Homo sapiens: one gene and its partner. The main gene of each other region encodes a partner of the protein of the gene in region 2 in a complex. Each region holds a gene or a part of one and is shown on either strand. Other genes may lie near its edges.

Evidence for each region. Proteins that work in one complex are often made in the same cells at the same time.
Region 1: the proteins of ASB7 (region 2) and LZTS1 are in contact, whole or in part, in a crystal structure (PDB 8Y1U), measured with the Homo sapiens proteins. Residues at the interface, in NP_937886.1 of Homo sapiens: Asn46, Trp48, Ala56, Ile79, Phe82, Tyr87, Met90, His91, Asp116, Trp118, Val123, His126, Tyr127, Ser147, Lys149, Thr151, Gln155, Leu156, Ile159, Arg160, Phe182, Arg185, Tyr186, Ile189, Lys190, Arg210, Leu220, Leu223; in NP_001349813.1 of Homo sapiens: Arg346, Glu348, Leu349, Leu352, Met353, Glu355, Gln356, Leu358, Leu359, Glu360, Lys362, Leu363, Arg364, Ser365, Tyr366.

What each region holds. Positions count from the first base shown.
Region 1 is NC_000008.11:20,293,952-20,300,983, reverse strand, and holds part of LZTS1 (leucine zipper putative tumor suppressor 1), read left to right. Parts: intron 1-7,032. UniProt on the Homo sapiens protein: Involved in the regulation of cell growth. May stabilize the active CDC2-cyclin B1 complex and thereby contribute to the regulation of the cell cycle and the prevention of uncontrolled cell proliferation. May act as a tumor suppressor.
Region 2 is NC_000015.10:100,598,690-100,605,606, reverse strand, and holds the start of ASB7 (ankyrin repeat and SOCS box protein 7), read right to left. Parts: upstream 3,019-6,917; 5' UTR 2,561-3,018; intron 2,393-2,560; 5' UTR 2,294-2,392; intron 1-2,293. UniProt on the Homo sapiens protein: Probable substrate-recognition component of a SCF-like ECS (Elongin-Cullin-SOCS-box protein) E3 ubiquitin-protein ligase complex which mediates the ubiquitination and subsequent proteasomal degradation of target proteins.

The DNA.
Region 1 (7,032 bases), on a different chromosome or scaffold from region 2:
ACGCCTGGCTAATCTTTTATATTTTTAGTAGAGATGGGGTTTTGTCATGCTGGTCAGGCTGGTCTTGAACTCCTGACCTCAAGTGATCTGCTGGCCTCAGCCTCCCAAAGTGTTGGGATTACAGGCAGGAGCCACCACACCCAGCCCCACTGTGGGTTTTAACCATAGGGATCAACTCCTCCAAGAAAGTTTCCTCTGTTTTTTCCTCAATTCTGAGTCAGGTACCTTCCTCAGAGTCCCTACCATCATACCAGTATATTATGGCATTTACTCACTGGCTCCTGAGGAGTCTACAAAACTCCTAGAAGCAGAGATTGCATCATGAGTTCCCAGCTCAAAATACAGTGTTGGCGGCGGGGCGCTGTGGCTCACGCTTGTAATCTCAGCACTTTGGGAGGCTGAGGCAGGTGGATCACGAGGTCAGGAGATCGAGACCATCCTGGCTAACACGGTGAAACACCGTCTCTACTAAAAATACAAAAAATTAGCCGGGCGTCGTGGCGGGCACCTGTAGTCCCAGCTACTTGGGAGGCTGAGGCAGGAGAATGGCGTGAACCCGGGAGGGGGAGCTTGCAGTGAGCCGAGATCACATCACTGCACTCCAGTCTGGGCAACAGAGAGAGACTCCGTCTCAAAAAAGAAAAAAAAAATACAGTGTTGGCTTTCAGTAGATACTATGAGTATGCCCTTAGTAAATGCTTGTTTAATAAGGTAAGGGGAAAGATGAGAGCTCTCAGAGACCTTTGGCAGGGAGCACTGTTCCCAACAGTGGATTTCTGCATGGGTGCCCTTTGCTAGTGTGGCCACTGACTTTCCTTCCTCTGTTACTGGGCCAGCTCCTTCAAGGCCTCTCCCTAGATGGGGCCATCTCAGGCCCCACCAACAGTTCGGGAGTCCGAGGGAACACTCGCCCCCACCCACTCTATCTCCAGGTCAATCAACCCACAAGCACAGTTATGGAAGGGGACCATTCTAGGTGTGACCTAGACCTGGGGTTTTAAAATCCTGCACTTTGAGCCGCCACATGGTTCCAGGGCAATGATGAGATGTTTCTGGGATTTTGCCAACAAAGAAGTATCCAACTACGTGGGGAATCTTGAGGTGATTTACATATTAGCTCTTTGAGTTTGCTGTTGAATAGATCTTTGTGCTGCTACAGTTTGAAGCCTGAAATGGACACTCCTAGGCTTGCAGTTGAGAGTGTGAATTGCTACCATGTTTGGGGAGGTAATCTGGCCATGATTTCTCCGAGGCGACGCAGTCAAGTGATTCTCCTTCCATCTCCTTTCCATCGCCCTGTTATTTCTCATATAGGAATTACTACCTGTGTTCTCGGGGCTCCATGGCGATTTAAGTTTTTCTTTTAAAGATCATTGATCAAGTTTGAAAAACTCTGCATTTCACTATTTATTAAAGGTCTTATCCGTGTGAGGTGCCAGGGAGTGGGGAATAACAGCAAAAAAGACGAAATAATGCTTAGAGACTAAAATTTGTGATGACAGTTGGGAAGAAGAACTGGCACACCTGAACCAATGACAAGTAAGTTGAAAACTGGATTGTATTAGGTTGCTGCAAAAGTAATTGTGGTTTTTGCAATTAAAATACTAACTTTGAATACAGCAGTTTCTCAGCAGGAGGCAGGTGAGCCAGAACCTTCCTTACCAGGGAGGAGGTGGCTGTGAACTGAACCTTGAAGTTGAACCTGAGGAGGGTATGAAGGGAGTCAGCGAAGCAGGAGCCAAGTTCATGGCTCCAAGATGCAAGCTGAGAGCTGAGGAGACAGGGCTCTCTCTTCCAAGAACCTTAGCCAGAGCCTGTTGCCTCCTTATGCTGGGTTTGGCCAGCCACCCAGACCAAACAGAGGTGGTGCATAAAAAATGGGAGGTTTTCAACCTCTCACCTCTCACCACTGCCTCCAGCCAGCGTGCAAATTAGCCTCCAGATCCCTCCTCCCAGGGTTGGAGAAGTTGATGGGGATGTGTCAGCTACAGTCGAGCATAGCTGGTGAGCTTACGGCTAGTTAGCTCCTTTTGCCATTTGGCAAAGCCCTCTGTTTTGCTGCAGTTTTCATCCTGTGTCTCTCACACTGGTTTTTTGTTTGTTTTTTAGAGACAAGATCTTGCTGTTTCTCTCAGGATGGAGTGCAGTGATGTGATCACGGCTCAGCTTACTGCAATCTTGACCTCCTAAGCTCAAGTGATCCCCAGTCCTCTCTCCTCAGACTCCCAAGTAGCTGGGACCACAAGTGCATACCAACACACCTGGCTAATTGTTTTTAATTTTTGTAGAAATAAGGTCTCGCTATGTTGCTCAGGCTGGTCTTGAACCCCTGGCCTCAAGTGATCCTCCCACTTTGGCTTCCCAGAGTGTTGGGATTCTAGGTGTGAGCCACCGCATCCAGCCTCACACTGTTGCTTCCTGCTGGACACTGACTTCCACCATCCCTAGACTTCCTTAATGGTGATTTCAATAGCGCTTTTTACTTGTACAGGACTTTACACTTTAAAAAGTGGAATAAAATTATTATTATTATTATTTACACCTCACAACAACTCTGTGAGAAGATTCCCTTTGCCATTTGGCAGATGAGGAAACCAAGTGCGCCTTTGAAAGTTGAAGGAGGGCTGGGCACGGTGGCTCATGCCTGTATTCCTAGCACTTTGGGAGACTGAGGTGGGCTTATCATCTGAGGTCAGGAGTTCAAGACCAGCCTGGCCACCATGATGAAGCCCTGTCTCTACTAAAACTACAAAAATGAGCCAGGTGTGGTGGTGCACGCCTGTAGTTCCAGCTACTTGGGAGGCTGAGACAGGAGAATCTCTTGAACCCGGGAGGTGGAGGTTGCAGTGAGTGGAGATCACACTGCTGCACTCCAGGCTGGGTGACAGAGCAAGACTTTGTCTCAAAAAATAAATAAAAAACAAAAAAAAAGAAAGGTGAAAGAGTTTATGCAAGATTTTTAAGAGGAATGCTGAGATATGAACACCAGCTGTTCTGAGTCCCAATGTTGGGCTGTAACTACCAAGTCATTGGGGTTCACCAATTAAATGGATTTAGGCTCATCGAATTGTTGGCAAGTGTTTAATATGCAGGAAAAAGAGATTTTTAAAATTATAAGAATGCAGTTACTTTTGTATTTATTGTAATTCAAGCATGATGAGGGCATTCGAATCTTCCTCAGTTTTTCTGTGCTCACTTCACCCCCCATCTCCCTTTTCCCTAAGTGCTTGTGATGCATATATGTTAAGCTCAATAAACAATAAACTAGGGCCTGGCGTGATGGCTCATGCCTGTAATCCCAGCAATTTAGGAGGCCAAGGTGAGCCGATCACCAGAGGTCAGGAGTTCCAGACAAGCCTGGTCAACATGGCGAAATCCCATCTCTATTAAAAATACAAAAAATTAGCTGGGCATGGTGGTGCACGCCTGTAGTCCCAGCTACTCAGGAGGCTGAGGCGGGAGAATTGCTTGAACCCGGGAGGCGGAGGTTATAGTGAGCTGAGATCGCACCACTGCACTGCAACCTAGGCTAAAAAGCGAGACTCTGTCTCAAAAACAAACAAACAAACAAACAAACACAATAAAGTAGGATGTAGCTAGGATAATGGAATGTCTACTTGGCATTTGCTTTAGAGAATGAAATTTATCATATGTCAGTTCTTTCTTTATAGCTTGTCAATTCAAAAGGTTTAGTCCACTCCATGTTGAAATTAGAGCAAATGTTGCCTCCACAGAATTTGAATTAATGACATTTCATTGGAATACCAACCTTAATTGCATAATATATTTCAGTGTTTCCACCTTGTCCATGAGCAAGTACGTTCTGAACTAAAATGGGATAGCAGTCTCTTCACTGGTAGCTCAAGCAATTTGTGGAAACCAGACTTCAGGGGCAATCACACATGGAGGCTGCCCCCAGGGGAGAAGAGAATTGGATGGAGCATCGTGGGAAGGAGGGGAGCGAAGGGAGGCGGAAGACGGAGACAGAAGACAAGCAGAGAGGGAATGTGTGTGTTAGCTAACAGCTAAAGCTAATTGATCTAATCAATCCAGCAGAGAGGTGATTTTTCTTACTAAGTGACAGGCCAAATCGGTGTCTGAACAGATGTGATGTGGGTTGCGTCCAGCACCTGGAACAAAGACAGCAAAGAGCTGCCCCATGGAGATCGCCAATAGATGTGCTTCATGTCAGTTAATCATTGTGGGAGAAGATAGGGCTGCCTTCAGGCCAGTGCCAGAGCACATGCACACACATGCACACACGCACACATACACACATACACACGCACACACACGTATCCATTTCATTCATCCACTCTCATTGTCTCTCCCTCTGAGACGTGCTTTCTTGTGATACCCAAACTCACAAGCCCAAGTACATCACATTACACAAATCTTCAGAGACTCCCAAGATGTCAGGACCCGGGAGATCCACACCTCTGCCTACCTGGGCTGGCCAATCTGTGGCATGGTCTGAGGTGAGCTCAGACAGCCCCCTCCCCGATGCCATGCCTGGGGCAGTCTTTAGGTGGCCACGAACCCATTAGAGTTACAGATCCTCTGGAGGAAGAGGATGGGCCAGTCTAGGTGAGACTTTCAGCCTAAGAGGGGTACAAGAACTGGGGCCCCTCAAGGAGGTTGAAAGTGGAGGTGAGATGGGGTTGGGAGTGGGCATTGTTCTCAAACCCTCCCATTCCTGTGCATGAATCTGACCTCACAGAATAACCTCTCAGGTGGCTGAGGCCATCCCCGCCCAAGGCATCAGGGCAGGGCTGTGCACTTGGCTCCCTGGCCTGTTGGCTTGGGGGACATTTTCACTCTTCTTGCTGCTGCAGAGCCATTTGCTGCTAAATCACCCTCCTCTTGGCACCATGGACTGCTAAATTGGTCTCAACTTGCTGTACTTCCACCCACCACCTTAGTCATTATTCGCTGGCAGCATTCAGAGAGTGGGTGTAAGGCAGCCGAACATTATATTCCTGCTGTAAAGAGGGAGAATTGAGTATAGACATGCAAGGAGAGGGGAGAGAGGGAAGGAGGGAAGACAGCGTGAAGGAGGCAGGGAAACAAGGCCTGGGGTTTGCCAGCACCTTTCCCTGGTGACCCCAGTGACACTGGATTGGGGGGGCATTATAGGTGAGTGGGTCCTGGCTCAGTGGGAGGAGACAGAGGGGTCCACCTGCTACTGAGTGTCTTCCCACCCCTGGTCTGGAGGCAGGAAAGGACATTAGCCATGGGAAGAGAAGGGTTCTGCCCTCTGTGAACTCCCTGTTCCTTGAATTCTACAGTGTATAACGTACTTGTCACTCCCATTTGAGCACTTGTTCCCATGTATTCATATTTAGCTTTTTATCTCTATCCTCCCTCCCAGCATAGGTTATAAGCCCCTTGAAAGAGAATGTGTGTCCCGCATCTGATATATAGCACCAGGCCTTAGGAATGGTCTAGGGCTCGGTCCCAAATGGCAGAGATGGATGGCGCTAAGGCCCACAGTGCTTCTTTCTACCCAGCCACTTCAGATCTCTCTGTGCCACTCAAGGGCCACAGAAATTGGAAAGCCAGGCAAGCAAGAGGAGATGGAATCACAAGGGAATCTACAGGGCTTGGTCTGCAATCTCAGTGGGAAACTCCAGGGAGGGAAAGGGTTACACTGCAGAACAGACCAGCCAGGAAAGCAGAAACTTAAGAGACCTGTGGTCCTTGTGCAGAAGGCTGGGGGTGATCTCCACCTGGCACATGGGCTCTCCTGATAGCTCATCCATTGCCCAATGCCCAGGCATGGTGCCGGGGCTGGCAGGAGGTAGGAAGCAGAATCGGTTCTCACATCGGGCAGCAGTGACAGCGTCAGGCAGGGCAGACTGACCTTGACAGGAGGCTCCCTGAGTCACTGATAACATTTGTTTGGGCACCCAGGGAGAGGTTAGAAAGGGAACTCATGCCATCCCAAGCTGGCTTGGGACCTCTTGGGGCCCCCAACCCAGGCTCCTTGCCTCCCACACTCTGCTTGGGGGAGATAATAGGAAAATGCCAAGAACAGAAGCCTCCCTAGCTAGGGAGATGGGGAGACTCTTGAGGGATATGGGGATGAGCCCTGAGGCTGCCCTTGACCTTCCAGAGAGGCAGCCCCATGCCTGGTGTCTGTAGGTACCTGTGTGGGGTCTGCCCTCCCCTCTGTCTCCCATGGTCATCCCCAGCAGAGGTCCAGAAGGACAATCTACACACTCAGGGTAGCTTCCCTTATTTATTGCAACCTTCAGACACTCCAGCTTGAGCTCTTCCCTGCTCCCCGCCACCCCCAAAGGGCATTTCCACAGTGCAAGGGGAGGAGGGAGGGAAGCATGGACTGGACAGCGCACACATCTTGAGGAGACAGCCTCCCCCTCCTTGCCTATCAAATTCCCCCAGCCCCAACGCCTCCGTGGCCCCAGCAGACAAACCACACTGCAGGCAGGTGGGGAAAATGAGAGGAGCCAGGCGGAGCCCCCAGCCTCCACCTGCACTGTAAAGCGAGCCGGCCCCTGAAGGAGGCCTGGGAAGGACTCCCCAGCTGCCTTCGGCTCCTCCCCTTGCCAGGCCCGCAGCTGGCCCTGCTCAAAGGCTGTGCAGCCGGCTGGTGGCTGGTGGGGCAGGTGTGGGCAGGATGCGTGGCTATTCCCAAGACAGGATTTCTTCATCTATCAAACTAGAAGCACCAGGCATTTGGCTTCTCTGGGCTTCCACCAGTACCTCGGACATCTGTTGACTTAGAAACTTTTTCTTGATGTTGGACTTACTTCTATTCTAGAGCCGCAGACAGGACCTCCAACTCTAGGGTCCTAAGATTTGTCAGGACACAAAAGAGCCTGTGCTGAAAAAACTTCAGATACTCTACATGCAAACACAACACCTCAGGGTTGAAAGGATGCTTAAAAACCACTCTATCCATATCCTCTCCCTGTCTCCCCTACACACACACAAATACTCACTGCCAAGAACTTTTATTTCACACCTCAGGAACCCAGTTCTTTCCATTTTCTTTTTTCTTTTTATTTT
Region 2 (6,917 bases):
CATATCTGGCTTTAGACTTTTTAGGGATGGTGTGTATCTCTATGTCACCAAAGTTAAACGTGAACAAATTAAAGAGATACTGTATGTGTCATAGTATTAACTAATTGTAAATGACATCACTTTATGTGTAAAGAATGTAAGTACTGGCCACAGTATACTAAAGATGCATCATTGCATATCTTCAATTAAAATCAATTATTCTCCCTACGTGATTATAAATCTATATTTGGTGACGAAATAAATTGGATTTTTTTTAAGCCACATGATTGGCAATAGAATTAATACAAAGCTAACTGCCAGGTTAAAAAATGTAAGCTACCTAACTAGCCATGTTGGTAAATAAATACCCAAATTAAATATTCTAAATGCCTGGTATAATCTAGACCAAATACTCTCAGTCATTCTGATATTAGAAACATGACAGATGTTGACAATTTACACATATTCCCTAATCTTAGAAAAACTATTAAAAAATGAGATGATCCATGAAATACGATTTAAGCAATGAGAATGAACTGGCTGAGAGCCAGAGTAAAGACTTATCCTCTCTTACCTTATGTGCTGGACTAGCCACAGACTCCTTCCCTTTACCATCTCAGGTGAAACTACTCTTTAGAAATGAAAGCGTCCTAGAGTTACATGTAAAGCTGAAAAAATATTTAACTGAGAGGCTTGAATACAAAACACAGTACTTCATTTTGATCTTTAGAACATACTTCAAATATTTTAGCATTTTTTAAAAGTTCTGAAGTAATCATTAGGCCATCTCCCTGACAACTTCCATACTTACATAATAAAAATTAGCCTTTAAAGATTTCCGGGTAGCTTTTACTGAAATGATGTAGTCTAGTACTCCTGATTCCCTACATATACATACAAAAGCTGCCCTAAGTTTTCAACAGGGAACAGTCATTGGTAGATACTGATTCTAAATCCTATTCCCTAGAATCTCTTCTTTTGGCATGCAGTTCCATGTCTCAAGAATATGCATACCTCAGATCCCCTTAAAAGCTATGTCTTTATCTCTTTAGCTATGTCTTAAGAATTAACAGAATCAGTAAAGATACTAATTTCTTTTTGTGGAGGGCAGAAAGTCCAGTGGAACATAGGAAATCAAAAATATTAACTTCTGCTATTTTAAGCACTTCCTTGTAACAAAAATTCCCTAAACAATTTGGGATATTAAAATAACTCAGATTAACAAGTCACTTTATACTTTTGCTACTGGATGTTAAAAAAGTCATCCATTTGGCTAATTTTGGAATTAAACCTTGTATAATTTCCATGCTTATATCCCCCCTTTAGGAATTACACTAATGTCCTAAGTTTACTTTCAGAGCATTTTCAGAAGCAGCAACAAAATATGGCAGCAGAAATGTGATCACATGAATTAGATGCTTAAATTTCAATCCAGCAAACTCTACGTAAAAGTTTTAAAATGAGAAATCTTTTTTATAGAGTGCTAAAATTAAGACCCAGATATGTAAACACACCAAAAGGTTCCTTTGTTTTTAAATTCCTGAGTCAAACGATTAATAAGATATTGTGCAAATTTTTAAAAGTTCTCCTAGAAAATCTGAGGTGTAAGAAACATTGTATCTTTATAAGTTTCAAAGCCCATCCACATTTGTCACACACAAACACACAGAAAGCCCAAAGAGTTAATTATGCCTAAGTGCTTCAGGGTAATAATGTTGTCTTCATACCATTCACACTCTTAAGGTACACAGGTTGGCTTTCTAGTAGGAAATAAAATCAAACTATTTTCTGAAACTCATAAATCTCAGGCCAATAATTTACCTTTCTCTACCAAATCGTTGTCAGTTAGATAACTCAAAAGATTTTTCTGATGCAGGTAGAAGAAAGGTGATAGGAAAGAGTAAGGGGGAAAACAGTAAATTGTGGTTTAATTAAAAAGGAAAGTCATTCAGAATTAACAAGCAATTAACAAGGAATTGAGGAATTCCTATGAGAGTAAGGAAGGGAGGGTAGCTACAAAAAGGTCTCAAAGCCTCAGAGCAGAGTAAATGGCACAGTGTACCAAAAGATAATGAAAAACACAGAAACACACTGTACAGAAAGAAAGTGGGAAAATACTGTCCTGGGTAGAGAAGTTATAAAATGTTAAGTATCAGGCACGGGTAATGTTTTTGTTTTTCCTGGGAAACTGGGGGTGGGGGTGGGGGGGGTAGGAAAGGTTGCATTCCCAGGCAACCACCCTGAAAATAAACCACTGCTTAATGAGGTAGGGGCCAGGAATAAACAACGGGGGAGGGGAGGGCTGGCTCATTACCTTTACAGACGATGCTGGTCAGAGGCACTGTGCCTTCTGCTTCTCTGATAGGTGGGCAGACCTCTTCCTGCTTTCGCGTCTTCTTCAGCCAGCTCAAACCTAGAAAAACAGAAACCAGTGAGTGGTGTAGTGTCTCAGAGGTGGGGAGGGGGGAGCTCAGGAAAGGGGCTGGAGAGTGGCAAGGGCAGGCAAGAAAAAGCAGAGATTTTCCTCCCTCCTACCCTCCCAGCCAGCACTCTTCCCCTCGGGGGAAGTAAAGGACTTTACCTGTCTCCTCAGCTGCTGCTTCTCTTCCTCCTTTCAGCCTCCTCTACACTCACCAACTTCTCCATTGAAGAAATACCCCAGGCAGGGCCGGACCCTGGTGTTCCTGATCCTCCTCGGTGCCTCACGGCCCCAGCCCGGCGAACATCCGAACAGCCGAGAAGGCAGGAGGTGGCGATCCCGGCCGCCGGGCAGCCTTGGGGCAGAGGTGCAGGGAGGCAGGGAGGAAGTCCTGGCTCGGGTGGGGGGGCAGTCCCGGTCCAGGGCTCGGAGCAGGGGGCTGCCGCGCTCCGGGCCGGAGGCTTCCAGCTACGGAGGGACCCAGGAGGTCTCGGGACGGCGAGGTCCCAGGTCATACGGGGCCCGAAGTGCCAGCCGTGGGGTCTCCGGACAGGGGGCTTTCGGGATGCACTTTGCACTGGGCCACCCCCGCCCCCTCCCTTCAGCACTTTGGGGTCACTGGGATGGGACCAAGCCTTCAACAACCAATCAGCGCCCGCAGTGGAGCCTGAGCCTGGAGCCGTAAACCAGGTCCGGGATGGGTGGGGGTGGAGGGAGTAGGGACGACTTGGTTGGTTGGTTGCTTCCTTCTCTCCTCCTTACCCCCGGCAGCCCCCACCCTCTGCCTGCCGTAAAGTTGCCTTTGCATTCGCGACAGTTAAGGGAGGCGTGCCGAACGGGGCAGAGATTCGTCTCCGATTGGTCTCACTCACTTCCCCTTACAGCTTCCCCGTGGTGGCTTCCGAGGCTCCGCCCCTGGCGGAGGGACTCAAAGCCGTTGCTAAGAGACACTATTCGCCGAAGGCGGTCTCTGCGCATGCGGGAGGAGGTGCCAGCTTGTACTTTCTGTGAACTACGGTGGCCCAGAGCGGGCATTTGTGTTCCCTCAAATGGCGGTGTGAAGAGAGTTCGCCTGAGCCAGATCCCAGGCAGGTAACCGGGACCGGCCGCCGTGCTGGCAGCAGGGGAGGCACGAGTGCGGCCAAATGAGAGCCTGGTTCAGGGCTTAAGGTTGGGAGGGCGGCAGGCTCCAGGAAGCGAGTAGAGGGGTGCCTTGTTTCTCCGCCCCTGTTCAGCGCTTGTCAGACGCAAGTGCCCGGTCTTGGCGCGGCTGTCGGTCCTTGAGACCCCGTTAGCTTCCAGGCTGGCAATGCCTCGCCTGAAGTGGGAGAACGGACTCTCTTTGGGATAGCGATGACGATCCAAGGACCTTCCTGAAAGGATAGCAACGTTGGCGGGTTCCTGTGAATGAATGGAGAGGGGTCGTGGGGAAAACGCGAGATAGACTGATCAAGACACGTTTGTTAAGCACTTTATTCATTAGCAAGTGTTTACTGGCCACTGTTCTAGTCCCTGGGGAGACAACAGTGAACAAGATAGTGATTTCGGGGAAACAAACACAAAATTATCAGATAGGGATGGGTTATATGAGGAAAATCAAGCAGAATGGTGGAATCGATTTTGACCAGGACGTGATGGGCTGTATTAGATAGGTAGTGCTATGGTGTGAATATCTGTCCCCTTCAAAACTCATGTTGAAATTTAATCCCCAATGTGGCAGTACTGAGAGGTAGAGTCTTTAAGAGGTGGTTGGACCGTGAGGGTTCTGTCTTCACGAGTGGATTGATCTATTCATGGATTAATGGGTTATCACGGAGGTAGAACTGGTGGCTTTTTAAGGAGAGACTTGACAACTCGTGAGCCTGCTCAGCCCCCTGGCCACGTGATACTTTGCGGTGCTGTCTCGTGGTCCGTCAGTCTTAGACTTCCCAGCCTCCAAAACTAGACAATAAATTACTTTTCTTTATAAATTACCGAGTTTTAGGAATTATTTTATAAGCAACAGGAAACGGACTAAGACAGATAGGAAAGGTCTCTGAGGAAGTGACATTTGAGCAGGGATCTGAATGACAAAGAGCCAGCCATGCCAAGATCTAGGGAGAGAATTTTGCCAGCAGAGAGAATTAGAAATGCAAAGCCTCTGATGCTAGAATATGCTTTGCTGTTTACAGGAACTGCCAGAAAGAAGGCTAGGGTAGCTGAAGCAGAGTGGTAGGAAAATGACTGGTAATGAGACTGGGGAGTGGGGCATAGAGATGAGAAGACGCCGAGAGTCAGATCTTGAAGGGCCTTGGTAAGCCTTGTTTAGGAGTTTGGACTGTATCCTAAGGAAAGTGGATTGGTTTTTCAGAAGGAAGTGGGTGTAGGGTGGGCCTGGATACAACCACTTTGGAAGGGATCGGTTGCAGTTGTCCAGAGTAGAAGTGCAGTAGTGGCAGTGAAGATAGATTCAGCTTTTTAATTTTTGTCCCATTATACTTCCCAGCAATCATATTTCATAATTTCAACTTTCTAAATTTCCATTTCTTCTTGAAATTAGTAGCTGAATTATAATTAGAAACAACTTATTCAGGACTATTAAATGCTATCAATTTTTAGTAGCTTTCGGTCTTTCGATTCTACCATGATTTCTCCCTGTTTTTTTTTTTTTTTTTTTTGCTTAACAGCAGGACTCCAATGTAAACAAATAAAATAAAAGCGGTATTTTATTAGTATTGTTAAATGAAATGTATAGGAAGCCATTGTTTTAGATTAAACCCCTGCACTAGGCCCAACAGACCAGGCCAAATCAGAATGGAGTTGCTGGTGCTAGGTGTCACATAATCAAACAACTTAGAAATGGGCCAGTTGTCAAAAAATCCAGAAGATACACAGCAAGGAGTCAAGGAGGCCTGATTTACCTGAGCCAGCATGATAAAGAAGTCTCTCCTCCATTTGGTCTCTGTGAGGAAAGTTTAACTTTGAAATGACCAATCTGTCTTTTATTCTCTTTTTGCTTCTTCAACCGTTTTCAGCCCACCTCTGCTCAGCTAATCAGAACACCGTTTCTAAATTTTTAGTTGAGATGCTGCCAGATTCATAAATTGCTAATAAAAGCCATTTACATCTTTAAATTTGTTCAAATTTTGTTTGTTTTTGTTTTTGAGATGGAGTCTCCCTCTGTCGCCCAGGCTGGAGTACAGTGGTGCGAGCTTGGCTCACTGCAACCTCCGCCTCCCAGGTTCAAGCAGTTCTCCTGTCCCAGCCTCCTGAGTACCTGGGACTACAGACACACTCCACCACACCCAGCTAATTTTTGTATTTTTAGTGGAGATGGGGTTTTACCACGTTGGCCAGGCTGGTCTCGAACCTCTGACCTCAGGTGATCCACCCGCCTCGGCCTCCCAGAGTGCTGGGATTACAGGTGTGAGCCACTGCACCCAGCCTCAAATTTTGCTTTTTAACAGTTCAAATATAATGTACAAGTTCAGTTTTATAACATTTACTAATTATAGAGTCAAGAAGTTTTGAACTCCCAAAAAGAAGGAAAAAGAGGGAGAGAGAAATGAATAAATATGTAAATTGTTGTGGAGAACATATTCATTCTTATAGCAGACTCGGCACCCATGCAATTCATATGGTGTATTTGCTAAATGATAGTTAAGTAGAGAGATGGGGGCCTAAGAACTTGTTGGTGAAGAGCCTAGAAACAGAGTTGTCTCCTAATTCCTAGTTCTTTGTATTTCTGGCCATTTGTTTTTCATTAAAAATCCTGCCTTTGAGTTAAACAACCATTTTCAAATGATTGAAGTACATGATTATATCATAGCCAAGTAACATCATATTGTCAAAGTTTCACAGAATGTGCTACTAGGTAATTTTAAATTGCTTTATTGAATTGGTGCTATCAGATTTGCTAATTTTTATAACTTTTCAATGATGTAAAAGCAGTTTAGATTGCGGAATATTTATAACAAGTTAATATTGATTAGGTTTTAACAGATACACTTCATTTCCCATTAACTTAGTTAATAATATAAAACTCACAAAAATGGGAACATCTTACAACATATAAGTGAAATAATTTGGGATAAGTATTCATGAAGCTTGATTCATGAAACCCTGACTCAATCAGAATTGAGTTTATTTCTTGAGTAGAAAGAGACTTTGTCATTGGAAAAATGCCCCAGCACCACTGCAGCAATTCTGATTTAGCTGGTCTCTAGGGAGTCCAAGGCTCATGGGTTTTTCCTAATGTTCCAGTGATGTCAGTGTCAAGGTCAGATTCCAAGGTCAAGGACCACTGCCCAGGAGGCTGTGTCCTGGCCCATAAAGCACTTGGTGGTGGAGAGAATGAGCAGGTTATGCTCTAGTTGGCAGCAGGCAGTGTTCTGGGCCAGCAGGTTGTGTCTGGGGATCTTGGTGTAATAAAGAGGGCCACCATAAAGACAGATGCAGCACAGTTTGGAGCCCATCATTTGCCTTGTTAGCCCAACTTAGTTCAGCTGTACCTGGCAGAAAAGGCGATGGGGCTGGGTAG